2 separate regions of the Homo sapiens genome follow, and region 2 is linked to region 1. A link means that fine-mapping ties the variant in region 1 to the expression of a gene that starts in the linked region. Tissue or cell type: monocytes. Region 1 holds a variant in brackets; the other region holds the start of a gene. All regions are shown on one strand. Distances are from middle to middle.

Region 1 (5,867 bases):
GAAAAGCAACGTTAATAATAATAATAAAATAAACTCTTTTGGAATGAATTCGTTCAACAGACATTTACTAACAGGCTGTTTCCAGGCCAGGTACCTTGCTGGGGATTGTTGGGAGCTTCTAAAATGAATTGGGAAACACAGTTCCTGACTCAAGGAGATTACAATTTGGCTGGGGACAAAGTCATGTATGCAGATAAGGAAATGATAAATATTCACAGAGGAAACGGTGTATTACATAACATGTAAAGAAGGAAGATGGGGAAAGAGACACCCCAAAGGGAGCAACAACATAAGCAAGGCCAGAGGTAAGGAATCTCCGTTTAGGCTGGGCGCAGTGGCTCATGCCTGTAATCTCAGCACTTAGGAAGGGTGAGACAGGCAGGTTGCTTGAGTCTGGGAGTTCGAGACCAGCCTGGGCAACATGGCAAAACCCTGCCTCTACAAAAAAAAAAAAAATTAGCTGGGTGTAGTGGTGTGTGCCTGTAGTCCCAGCTACTGGGGGGAGAGGGGGCACCGTGGGCTGAGGTGGAAGGATCACTTGAGTCCAGGAGGCTGAGGCTGCTGTGAGCTGAGATCATGCCACTGCACTCCAGCCTGGAGGACAGAGCAAGACCCTGTCTAAAAAAAAAAAAAAAAAAAAAAAAAAGAAAAAGAAAAAAAATCTCTGTATTGTTTAAGGAATTTCAGTAGGCAAATGTAACTGGAATGGTGTGTGTCTGCAGGGAGTGTGTTGAGATCTGAGGTTTCTTCTAGATAGGTTGCAACTGGGTCGCAGTGAGCAATGAATGCCATGCTGAAGAATGACTGCTATTTATTGAGTTTGCTACTATATACACCTTAAAATTACCATTGTCCTCAAAACAACCTAACAAAGTAGGTATTGATAGGCTCGCTGCAGCCTCAACCTCCGGGGCTCAAGCTATCCTCTTACCTCAGTCCCCCGAGTAGCTGGGACCACAGGCATGTACCACCACACCCAGCTAATTTTTAAAAATTTTTTAATAGACACGAGGTCTCACCATGTTGCCCAGGCTGGTCTCAAACTCCTGAGCTCAAGCGATCTGTCCACTTTGGCCTCCCAAAGTGTTGGGTATACCGCGCCTGGCCCGTTAGCCTTCTTTTTACAAATGAGAGAGCTGAGAGTCTGAGAGACTGAATAACTTGCCTCAGAGCTCATAGGTGGGATTTAAACCCATTCTGGTCTGACTCCATTGCTGGCTCTTCTTTACCCCAACCACAGAGCTAAAGAACTTGGCTTGTGGCCAGTCGCCATGGCTCACACCTGTAATCCCAGTACTTTGGGAGGACAAGGTGGGTGGATCACCTGAGATCGAGACCAGCCCGACCAACATGGAGAAACCCTGTCTCTACTAAAAATACAAAATTAGCAGGGTGTGGTGGTGCATGCCTGTAATCCCAGCTACTCGGGAGGCTGAGGCAGGAGAATCGCTTGAACCCAGGAGGCAGAGGTTTCGGTGAGCCAAGATCGTGCCATTACACTTCAGCCTGGGCAACAAGAACGAAACTCCATCTCAAAAAAACAAAACAAAACAAAACAAAAAGTCAGTAAAGAACTTGGCCTGTGTTCTGAAGGTAATAGGGAACCACTGAAGATTTTCAAGCTGTTAAGTGATATCAGCTCTATGTTTTGAGGGAGGAACTCTGCTAGCAACATGGAACCTGGGTTAAAGAAGAGAACAGGAATTCAGGGTCAATTTATGACCCCCAAAACGAAATATTTTCATTACAGTCACTTCTCATTCTTGATCTAAAACAGTACCACCCAGCTTGATTGCTGATCTTACTCACCAAGCAGCTTGCAAAAATCAAGTCCACTCTCAGAATTTGAAGAGTTGGTGCTTGAATTAATTCAGATAATTGCAGGCAATCATTCCAAAAAAGGCCCTCCAAAAGGACCATTTTGTCAGGGACAATGATCTGAATATTTAGGTTCTGAAAAGTATGTTTAAAAATAACAAGTCGGCCGGGCACGGTGGCTCATGCCTGTGATCCCAGCACTTTGGGAGGCCAAGGCAGGTGGATCACAAGGTCAGGAGTTCAAGACCAGCCTGGCCAAGATGGTGAAACCCCCGTCTCTACTAAAAATACAAAAAAAAAAAAAAAAAAAATTAGCCAGGCATGGTGGCAGGTGCCTGTAATTCCAGCTACTCGGGAGGCTGAGGCAGGAGAATTGCTTGAACCCGGGAGGTGGAGGTTTCAGTGAGCTGAGATTGCACCATTGCACTCCAGCCTGGGCAACAAGAGCGAAACTCCGTCTCAAAAAAACAAAAAACAAACAAACAAAAAAAAACACAAGTCTACTTTATATCTTATATATTTAGTGCCCTCTTATCACTCTCACGTACCCCACTCTGAAAATAGACACATACACTTCAAATGAAAGAAAAAGAAGTAGCAAGAGGGATCTGATTCCATTTGACCAGATCCACAATTTCTCTTTGTCTAGACATCTGATTTTTTTTTTTTTTTTTTGAGACTGGGTCTTGCTCTGTCACCCAGCCTGGAGTGCAGTGGCATGAATACGGTTCACTGCAGCCTTGATTTCCTGGGGAGAAGTGATCCTCCTACTTCAGCTTCCCATGTAGCTTGGACTATAGGTGCACACCACGACACCTTGCTTTTTTTTTTTTTGCTTTTTTTTTTT[TG/G]GTAGGGAGATGGGGGTCTCACTTTGTTGTCCAGGCTGTTCTCAAACTCCTGGGCTCAAGTGATCCTCCTGCCTCAGCCTCCCAAAGTGCTGGGATTACAGGATTGAGCCGCCATGCCTAGCCTTTTTTTTTTTTCCTAAGGGACAGAGTTTTGCTCTGTCGCCTAGGTTGGAGTACAGTGGCGTGATCATGGCTCACTGCAGCCTCAACCTCCAGGTAGCTGGGACTACAGGCACATGCCACCACACCCGGCTAATTTTTTGTTTATTGTAGAGACAGGATTTTGCCATGTTGCCCAGGCTGGTCTTGAACTCCTGGACTCAAGCGATCCACCCAAGTCAGCCTCCCAAAGTGCTGGGATTACAGGCATGAGCCATCACAGCCAATCCAGACACCTGATTTTTAAGAGATTGAAAATATGTGTTTTACTCTCATGGCTGCCAGTGAGCCCTCATCTGAAACAAACAAACAAATAAACTTGAGGATAGAAGAAAACTCTGGAAGTGATGAGGCTATAACCTTGCTTCCAGACAACAGCTTCTTAGTGAGTGACAGGGTGTTCTGGGGTGGGGATATATGGGGTGAGTAGGTGAGGACTCAGGTTCTGGGTGGAATGATTGGAAGACTGGTTTCAGCTGCTTACCATTCCTAGCAGCCTTGTGTTTGGAAGGTTGGAGGGCTCTTGGAACATCCTCTCCTAAGAGATGGCTGGAAAAGTCCAGAATTAATTTATCTTGGGGAAACAGGTAAGATAAAAACTTCTGGAATCGGCCGGGCGTGGTGGCTCACACCTGTAATCCCAGCACTTTGGGAGGCCGAGGTGGGCAGATCACGAGGTCAGAAGTTTGAGACAAGCCTGACCAACATGGTGAAACCCCGTCTCTACTAAAAATACAAAAATTAGCTGGGCATAGTGACGTGCGCCTCTGGTCCCAGCTACTCAGAGGCTGAGGCAGGAGAATCGCTTGAACCCGGGAGATGGAAGTTGCAGTGAGCCAAGATCGCACCACTGCACTCCAGCCCTGGGTGACAGAGCGAGACTCCATCTCAAACAAACAAACAAACAAAACTTCTGGGACCCAAAGTCCCCCAAAATCTCAGTGTTCTCCAGATGGCAGCAAGAAGAAGTAGCTCTCACAGGTTTGCCCAGAAGATGGTGCTGTAAGACAAGCCCCTCTTTCATCCTTAGCCTGGCCGGGATCAGTGACGGGACTATGAAAAGGCTTGCAGGAACCAGACCTAGAGGGCATCTCTACTCTCTATTGGGCAGGAGTTATCTCACAGTGCTGAGCATTGCAGTCCATTCCTAGATACTCCCTAGACCACAGAGGAGAACCTTGGGGGTTCCCACATCAGAGCTGTGAGCACCTCCATGGGAACACGAAGGTGAGAGACCCTGGGCACCTGGGACAGCAATTGTCCTGAGAAAACAGGGCCTCTGATCAAGAAACACTGTCAAGAAATACAGACCTGGCTGGGCATGGTGTCTCGCTCCTGTAATCCCAGCACTTTGGGAGGCCGAGGTGGGCAGATCACTTTAGGTCAGGAGTTCGAGACCAACATGGCCAACATGGTGAAACCCTGTTTCTACTAAAAATACAAAAATTAGCTGGGCATGGTGACACATGCCTGTAATCCCAGCTACTCGGGAGGGTGAGGCAGGAGAATTGCTTGAACCCAAGAGATGGAGGTTGCAGTGAGCCGAGACTGCGCCACTGCACTACAGCCTGGGTGATGGAGTGAGACTCTGTCTCAAACAAACAAACAGAAAACAAATACAGACCTTTTCCTCCAACTCTGGAGATTTGGACCCATTCCCCAAGGTAGCTGGGAGGTTGAGGAAGGGGTCTGAGGGGCTTGGGCACTGACTGAAGTTTATACTCTAAGGTAGAAAAAAAAAAGTGGATCTTTCTGGGAGAGCAAGCTAGAGGCCTTCAGATTAGGAAAGTGAAACTCAAAGGTTGACTTACCCAATGTCACACAGCTAACAAGGGACAGAACTGAGACAAGAAAGAGGGTTTCCTGGAACCCTCTTACCTCTTCCTCTTTCTGCCCTGTGTTTTCTGCAGATCATGAGAATATAACGTTTATAAATAGAATTCCCTTGACAAGGAGTGCCTTCCTGGGCAGTAAGAAAAAATAGCAGGGCTCTTGACTCAAAACCCCAATGCACATTTTTCTTTGCATGCTTTTTTTTTTTTTAACAGTCTCACTCTATCACCCAGGCTAGTGTACAGTGGCACAGTCTCTGCTCACTGCAACCTCCACCTCCCAGGTTCAAGTAATTCTCCTGCCTCAGCCTCTTGAGTAGCTGGGATTACAGGCACCTGCCACCATGCCTGGTTAATTTTTGTATTTTTAGTAGAGACGGGGTTTCACCATGTTGCCCAGGCTGGTCTCGAACTCCTGAGCTCAAGCAATCTGCCCACCTCGGCCTCCCAAAGTGCTGGGAGCCACCATGGCTGGCTCCAATAGCGTTTTCTAATTTTTATTTTATTTATTTATTTATTTATTTATTTATTTATTTATTTATTTATTGAGACAGAATCTTGCTCTGTCGCCCAGGCTGGAGTAAGTGGCGCCATCCTGACTCACTGCTGCATGTGCCTCCTGGGTTCAAGTGATTCTCGTGCTTCAACCTCCCAAGTAGCTGGGACTAGAGGCACACAACACCATGCCCAGCTAATTTTTGTATTTTTAGTAGAGACAGGGTTTCACCATATTGGCCAGGCTAGTCTCAAACTCCTGACCTCAAGTGATCCTCCCGCCTTGGCCTCCCAAAGTGCTGGGATTACCGACATAAGCCACCACGCCCAGCACGTCTGTTTTTTAAATAATGAAATTAATAAGTGAGTCCCATCAGCTGCACTTCTTTTCTGAGGATAATTTATATACAAGACACAGAAAAGCTTCTTGCACAATGTTCTTTTAATAGGATTTATGTAAACTCACATTTGTCAGGATCCGTAAAAGTATTCTATTTCTTTCACACATGTAATTTTTTTGTACCTCTATCTCAGTGAAGGAGGCAGGCGTTGTCATTCCCACTTGTGAGGTGATTGAGGATGCTCTCGGGTGCTGGGAGCAGAAGCAATGCGGCCTGAACCCAGGTATGGATTTCATTTTGAAGAAAGGTCTCCTTGTAGGGCACTATCCTGGACCCAGTGGGCCTGCCCTTCCTATTTATTTCTTAGTGAAACC
Region 2 (5,000 bases), 48 kb after region 1:
ACTACCGGCCCTTGGCCCACACTTGCCTTCATCCGCTGTGAAGAGTATCGGCCAAAAATATTCTTCGTGGAGGCCTCTGTGCCTTTGAGAAGGTCCAGGATTCTTAGGCAGTGAAAGTAGTGAATGTCTAGAAAGCAAGAGACGGGATTTCGAGAACTAAAGTATCTTCTTCACCTACTCTGGGCACTGCAGGTGGCTGATTCATGTATAATATACTGCCAGTAACTTTAGTGTGTAGCTTTTCCCTAAATCATTTCATAGTGGAAGAAGCCAGCATCTATACCTCAAATAAAAATCGCTCCCTCTCTAAAGGCCAGCCCTGGTGGCTAAATAACAAGAGAGTAGCTCAGCTGATACATACTACCTCAGCAAAGAGGGGACTCCAGTGACAGCCCCTAAGCACTCACAGGACCCAGACAGCAGCTGGGCGATCTCTTCGCTCTCTGGCATGTCCTGGATGGCAGCATTGATCTTCTCGCGGATCGTCAGCACCAGACTCTGCCATTTCAGGCTGCAGTGCCTTCTGTCCACCAGCCAATCTACATGAGAAGCACCCAAATTAGAGCATTCCCATTCACATCACCAAAATTCCATCACTAATTCGAGTGAAATACACTGAAATTAGTCTAAAAGTTTTCTTTACATTGGTTAAAGTATGGGGGTCATGGGAAGATGGGAATAAAGACAAGCCCAAAGAGATGCCTGGGGCTAAACCAGGCTCTGACAATCTGACTTCATTAGCAGTGTGATTTTTATAGAGCAATTGCCTCAACACAGGGATAACAAAAAGTTTAAATTGGTCCTGAAAGTGCCACTTTTGACCATTCTCAATTCCCCATAATATTTTTGCTTCTATGGGTAATTATATCTTTCTTCCTGACAAGAGGATGCTGCTCAACTTCCATTTCCTCAGGGCTGGGGTTAACCATGACAATGGAAAATACAAGATGGTTATGCCAAGTACTGGATGAATGAACAGCTGCAAAGCCCCTAATACCTACAGCGCCCTAAGGACTAGATAACATGACTCTGTTGTGAACAGTGAAGTACCACCCTGTACATGTGAATACCAATGGGACTGACCTCTCAAAGTCTGGGCCCAGATTTGTGGCTTCAGAGCCATGCATATTTCCTCAGTGAGAGCTAAGAGCTGAGCTTTGTGGTCAGATGGTCCTGGGTTCTCGTTATCAAGTTTCTTGAGCAAGTCTACTATTCTGTGCCTCAGTTTTCCCACATGTAAAATGGGGAATAATAAGACACTGACTAGAAAAGGGAATGCAGGTAAAACACTGAACAGTGTGCCTGAGACACGGCAAGGACTCAAAAAATGACAGTGATCATTTTTATCATGTCAAGTGCCTAAAACAGCACCTGGTACAAAAAAAAACCCTCAATGAATGGTGGTCATTTTATTGGTCCTTTTCATGACCAAGAACAAGCTCACACACCAAGACTGCACATGGGCTGAAGGGCCAGTACAAATCTGAAGGGAGGCTAAAGAAGCTTCCCCCGTGACCACCAAGCAGGACTGACTAAATGGCACTACAGAGTGGTGAATTCAGAACTTGAACTCTGCCAACCGGTCAAACGCTGGGGTCCCACACTAGTATCAGTTATACTCTCTCTGCTATATTCCTGTAAAGTTTTCAGAAAGAAAAATTCTGTTGATGTCACAGAACTAGAAGCAACGGACTGGGGTAGTCAAACAGACACCATCTTAAGGACAAGATTGGCATCAAATCCATGAATCCAATAAGCATTTTAAAATGCCAGGAGCTGTGTGATCAGATGAAGAGGCCTTCCCTGACTATGAACTGGGGAGGAAGTATGTAAGCCCCATACAGACAACCTGGAGATGGCCTGGACACTAAAAGGTTTTCATTTGCAACTGGGTCTTAGGTCCCTCTTCCTCCTAAAATCAAGGGGGAGGTGGAAGCTTTTTAAATGAGGTTTTTTTTTTTTTTCCTGGCATAATGCAAAAGGCATGGACAGTGGGTCAGACAGACTTAAGTTCCAATTCAGATGTGCCACTTAGTGGTTGACTGTTTTTTGTCTTCTTTTTGAGATGGAGTTTCGCTCTCGTTGCCCAGGCTGGAGTGCAATAGTGAGATCTCTGCTCACCGCAACCTCTGCCTCCGGGGTTCAAGCAATTCTCCCACCTCAGCCTCCCGAGTAGCTGGGATTACAGGCATGTGCTCCCATGCCCGGCTACTTTTTATTTTTATTTTTTTGTATTTTTAGTCATGGAGACATGGAGACAAGGTTTCTCCATGTTGGTCAGGCTGGTCTCGAACTCCTGACCTCAGGTGATTCGCCCACCTCGGCCTCCCAAAGTGCTGGGATTACAGGCATGAGCCACCGCGCCCGGCAGTGGTTGACTGTTTTTAAAGCGAGTCATTTATCCTGTCCCTGAATGATACGATAACATATGTTATTAAAGGAGAAAACGCAGGTCAAACAGACTGTACATATGGTTCGTTCCCGCTGCTATCAGGGAAGCAGGTCTGGCCACAGATGGGGCATAGAACGAGGCCAGTGGTCAGCATCTCGACTCAGGCTTTCAGGGGTCAGAGCTCCCGGCTATTGGACACAGGGGGCAACGCACAGGCCTCCCCCCGACAGCCAGCTGCGCGGTGGCGCCCCCTCCTACCGAGCAGCTTGCTGGTCTGGATGTCGATGGGCACGTGCTGATGGTCCTGGCGGGAAACACGGTGAGGAGGGGGGCGTGAGCGCGGAGAGAGGACGTACCACTCGCGCGCTCATTTCAACGTCCCAACCACCACCCTGCAGGGCCAGAACGGGGCCAGAGCGATGGGCTGGGTTGAGCCGCTTCCGGAGGGAGACCGGAGACACAGGTTAGGGGTCCGCGGCCAGTCCCCAGCACACCCAGCTCCTGTCCCCACACCTCCATCTTTCCTCCACTTCCGCTTCAGGCTGGAGACTGTGGCCCGCCCCGCCCTACCACCAATCCAGTGGCGTTGTGGCCGAGCCTCCGTTTAGACACAAACGGGCATCCTTCGGCCACGTCGCCGCCTTCCGTACAGCCAATCAGGGTTTACGCTCCACTCAGGCCTCAAGCCCCGCCCACCCCAGGCTCCGAATGGCTGAGCTCGGGAGGGGCGGGAGAATGGAGACAGCCAATTGGAGACGCGAGGCGGGCTCAGGGCAGGGGACGGGAGGGGGTGCGCTGCAGCGGCCGTGGGATTGCGACAGGCGGCGCTCGAGAGCCCAGCCTGGCAGCCGCTTCCCCTGGCGGGCACTGGGTCTTCTCCACGCAGATTGAGACGTCTGCTGGCGGGGTCCTAGCGCCGATCTGGGAGGCCGTTGCAAATACCTTCTTCCCTCCTTGCGTCGCTTTACCATCCAGAGCAGTGTGCAGGTCTCTTGTGGCACTTGTCATGCTTTGCCTCCTCATTCAGTTTCTCTAATAGACATGGTTGAGCACCTGCAACGTGTTGGGCGATTAGGGCAGGGAAGGGGAAGGAAGAGAGTCGGTGAGACGTCCCAAAGAGAACACCTACATTGAGTCTAAACGAAGAGCTGAAGATAGCTGGGTGATGTGGGAAGAGGAGTTTTAGGTGGAGGAGACTACACAGACAAAGCTTAGGTGGCCACAAACTGCAAGAGGGGTGCAAGCAACAACAGGCAGGCAGGACGGGCAACGTAATTTGTGAGGTCCAGTGCAAAATGGAAATGCACAGCTGCTTGTTACAAAATGATGAAGAATTTCAAGATGAAGTCGGCTCCGCGGGCAGGCCAACCTCTATACCGTAGATGGTTTGAGGCAGCGAGTGGCTAGAGGAGAGGCTGTAAGGGTGGAAAGGCCATATCAAAGGGAGACTTATTAAGGAACTTGGACTTCATCCCTTCAGACAGAGGAATCACAGAAGGGGTTTGAGGCAGGGAGGAACCTGTACAGATAGGCTGCTGGGATGATGGATGCATGGGAGATAAGACTGGGGACAAGGAGGCTGGAAGGAGGTTGTTATCGAGGGATTATAGCCTGAGCTGGGACACAAGATATGAGGAGGAAGGGGAAGGGCTGGATCTGAGGAATATTTAGGAGGAAAATGTATAGGACTTGGCAATTGATTGGCTGTTTGGGTGGAGGAGAGAGACACTAAGGATGACACCTAGGTGATTAGGTGGGAACCACCACCTGAGACAGGGATGCAGGATGCTGAGCAGGTGTTGGGGAGGAGGGGGTCTAGCTTTGAACCTAGTCTGGCAATGCTGGGAGACCCCCAGATGGAAAGTGTGCAGAAGGCACTTGGGTCTATAATTTTGGAGTTCGAGGGAGTTGTCGGGGCTGGAGATACAGCTTGGAGAGTCACAAGCTGGCTAATCTGTGGTCCGAGTGGTGGCTGAAGCTAAGGGAGAGTCTGAGATTGGCCAAGAAGTGGGTAGAGTAAGGAGGGAGGGTAGGCTGAGGCCAGATCCCCCAGGATCTCACAGCGCTGGGTATGCCTTTTCTTTTTTTTTTTTTTTTTTTTTTTTTTTTGAGACGGAGTCACGCTCTGTCGCCCGGGCTGGAGTGCAGTGACACGATCTCGGCTCACTGCAAGCTCTGCCTCCTGGGTTCACGCCATTCTCCTGCCTCAGCCTCCCCAGTAGCTGGGACTACAGGCGCCCGCCACCACGCCCGGCTAATTTTTTTGTATTTTTAGTAGAGACGAGGTCTCACCGTGTTAGCCAGGATGGTCTCGATTTCCTGACCTCGTGATTCTCCCGCTTCAGCCTCCTAAAGTGCTGGGATTACAGGCGTGAGCCACCGCGCCCGGCCCTGGGTATGCCATTTCTAAATATTCCTTCCCCAGCTCCTGTTCACCACAGCACAACACTTGAGGCTTAGTAAATTTTTGATTGAAATGCATAGTGTGATACAGCAGCAGGAAGACCTAGATTCTGCCCAGTGAGGTCTTGGACCATTTCTATAACCTATCTGATAGCCACAGTTTCCCCACATGGAGATAACAGCTATCCTATCTCAGGGTATTTCT

Which allele goes with the higher level. Alleles are on the strand shown, and positions count from the first base shown. SD is a standard deviation of normalised expression in the study named.
For the expression in monocytes of the gene that starts at base 2,945 in region 2, allele TG in region 1 goes with a higher level than allele G (small effect, 0.38 SD a copy in Fairfax 2014).

The links. PIP is the estimated chance that this variant, and not a neighbour inherited with it, causes the effect.
Region 2: it holds the start of CDK5RAP3, and the variant in region 1 is fine-mapped to the expression of CDK5RAP3 in monocytes (Fairfax 2014, PIP 0.95).

Annotation. Positions count from the first base shown.
Region 1 is chr17:48,016,483-48,022,349 of GRCh38, reverse strand. No RefSeq gene overlaps it. Among named protein-coding and RNA genes, the nearest start is that of MIR10226, 13 kb to the left of the region's middle. RefSeq lists an enhancer at 4,547-4,646. The variant TG/G (reference allele first, on the strand shown) is at 2,666.
Region 2 is chr17:47,969,058-47,974,057 of GRCh38, reverse strand. CDK5RAP3 (CDK5 regulatory subunit associated protein 3) reads right to left here and starts at 2,945. Exons shown (of 14, transcript NM_176096.3): 1 at 2,906-2,945; 2 at 2,651-2,696; 3 at 408-539; 4 at 27-127. The coding sequence starts at 2,911. RefSeq lists an enhancer at 1,956-2,583 and a silencer at 3,005-3,294.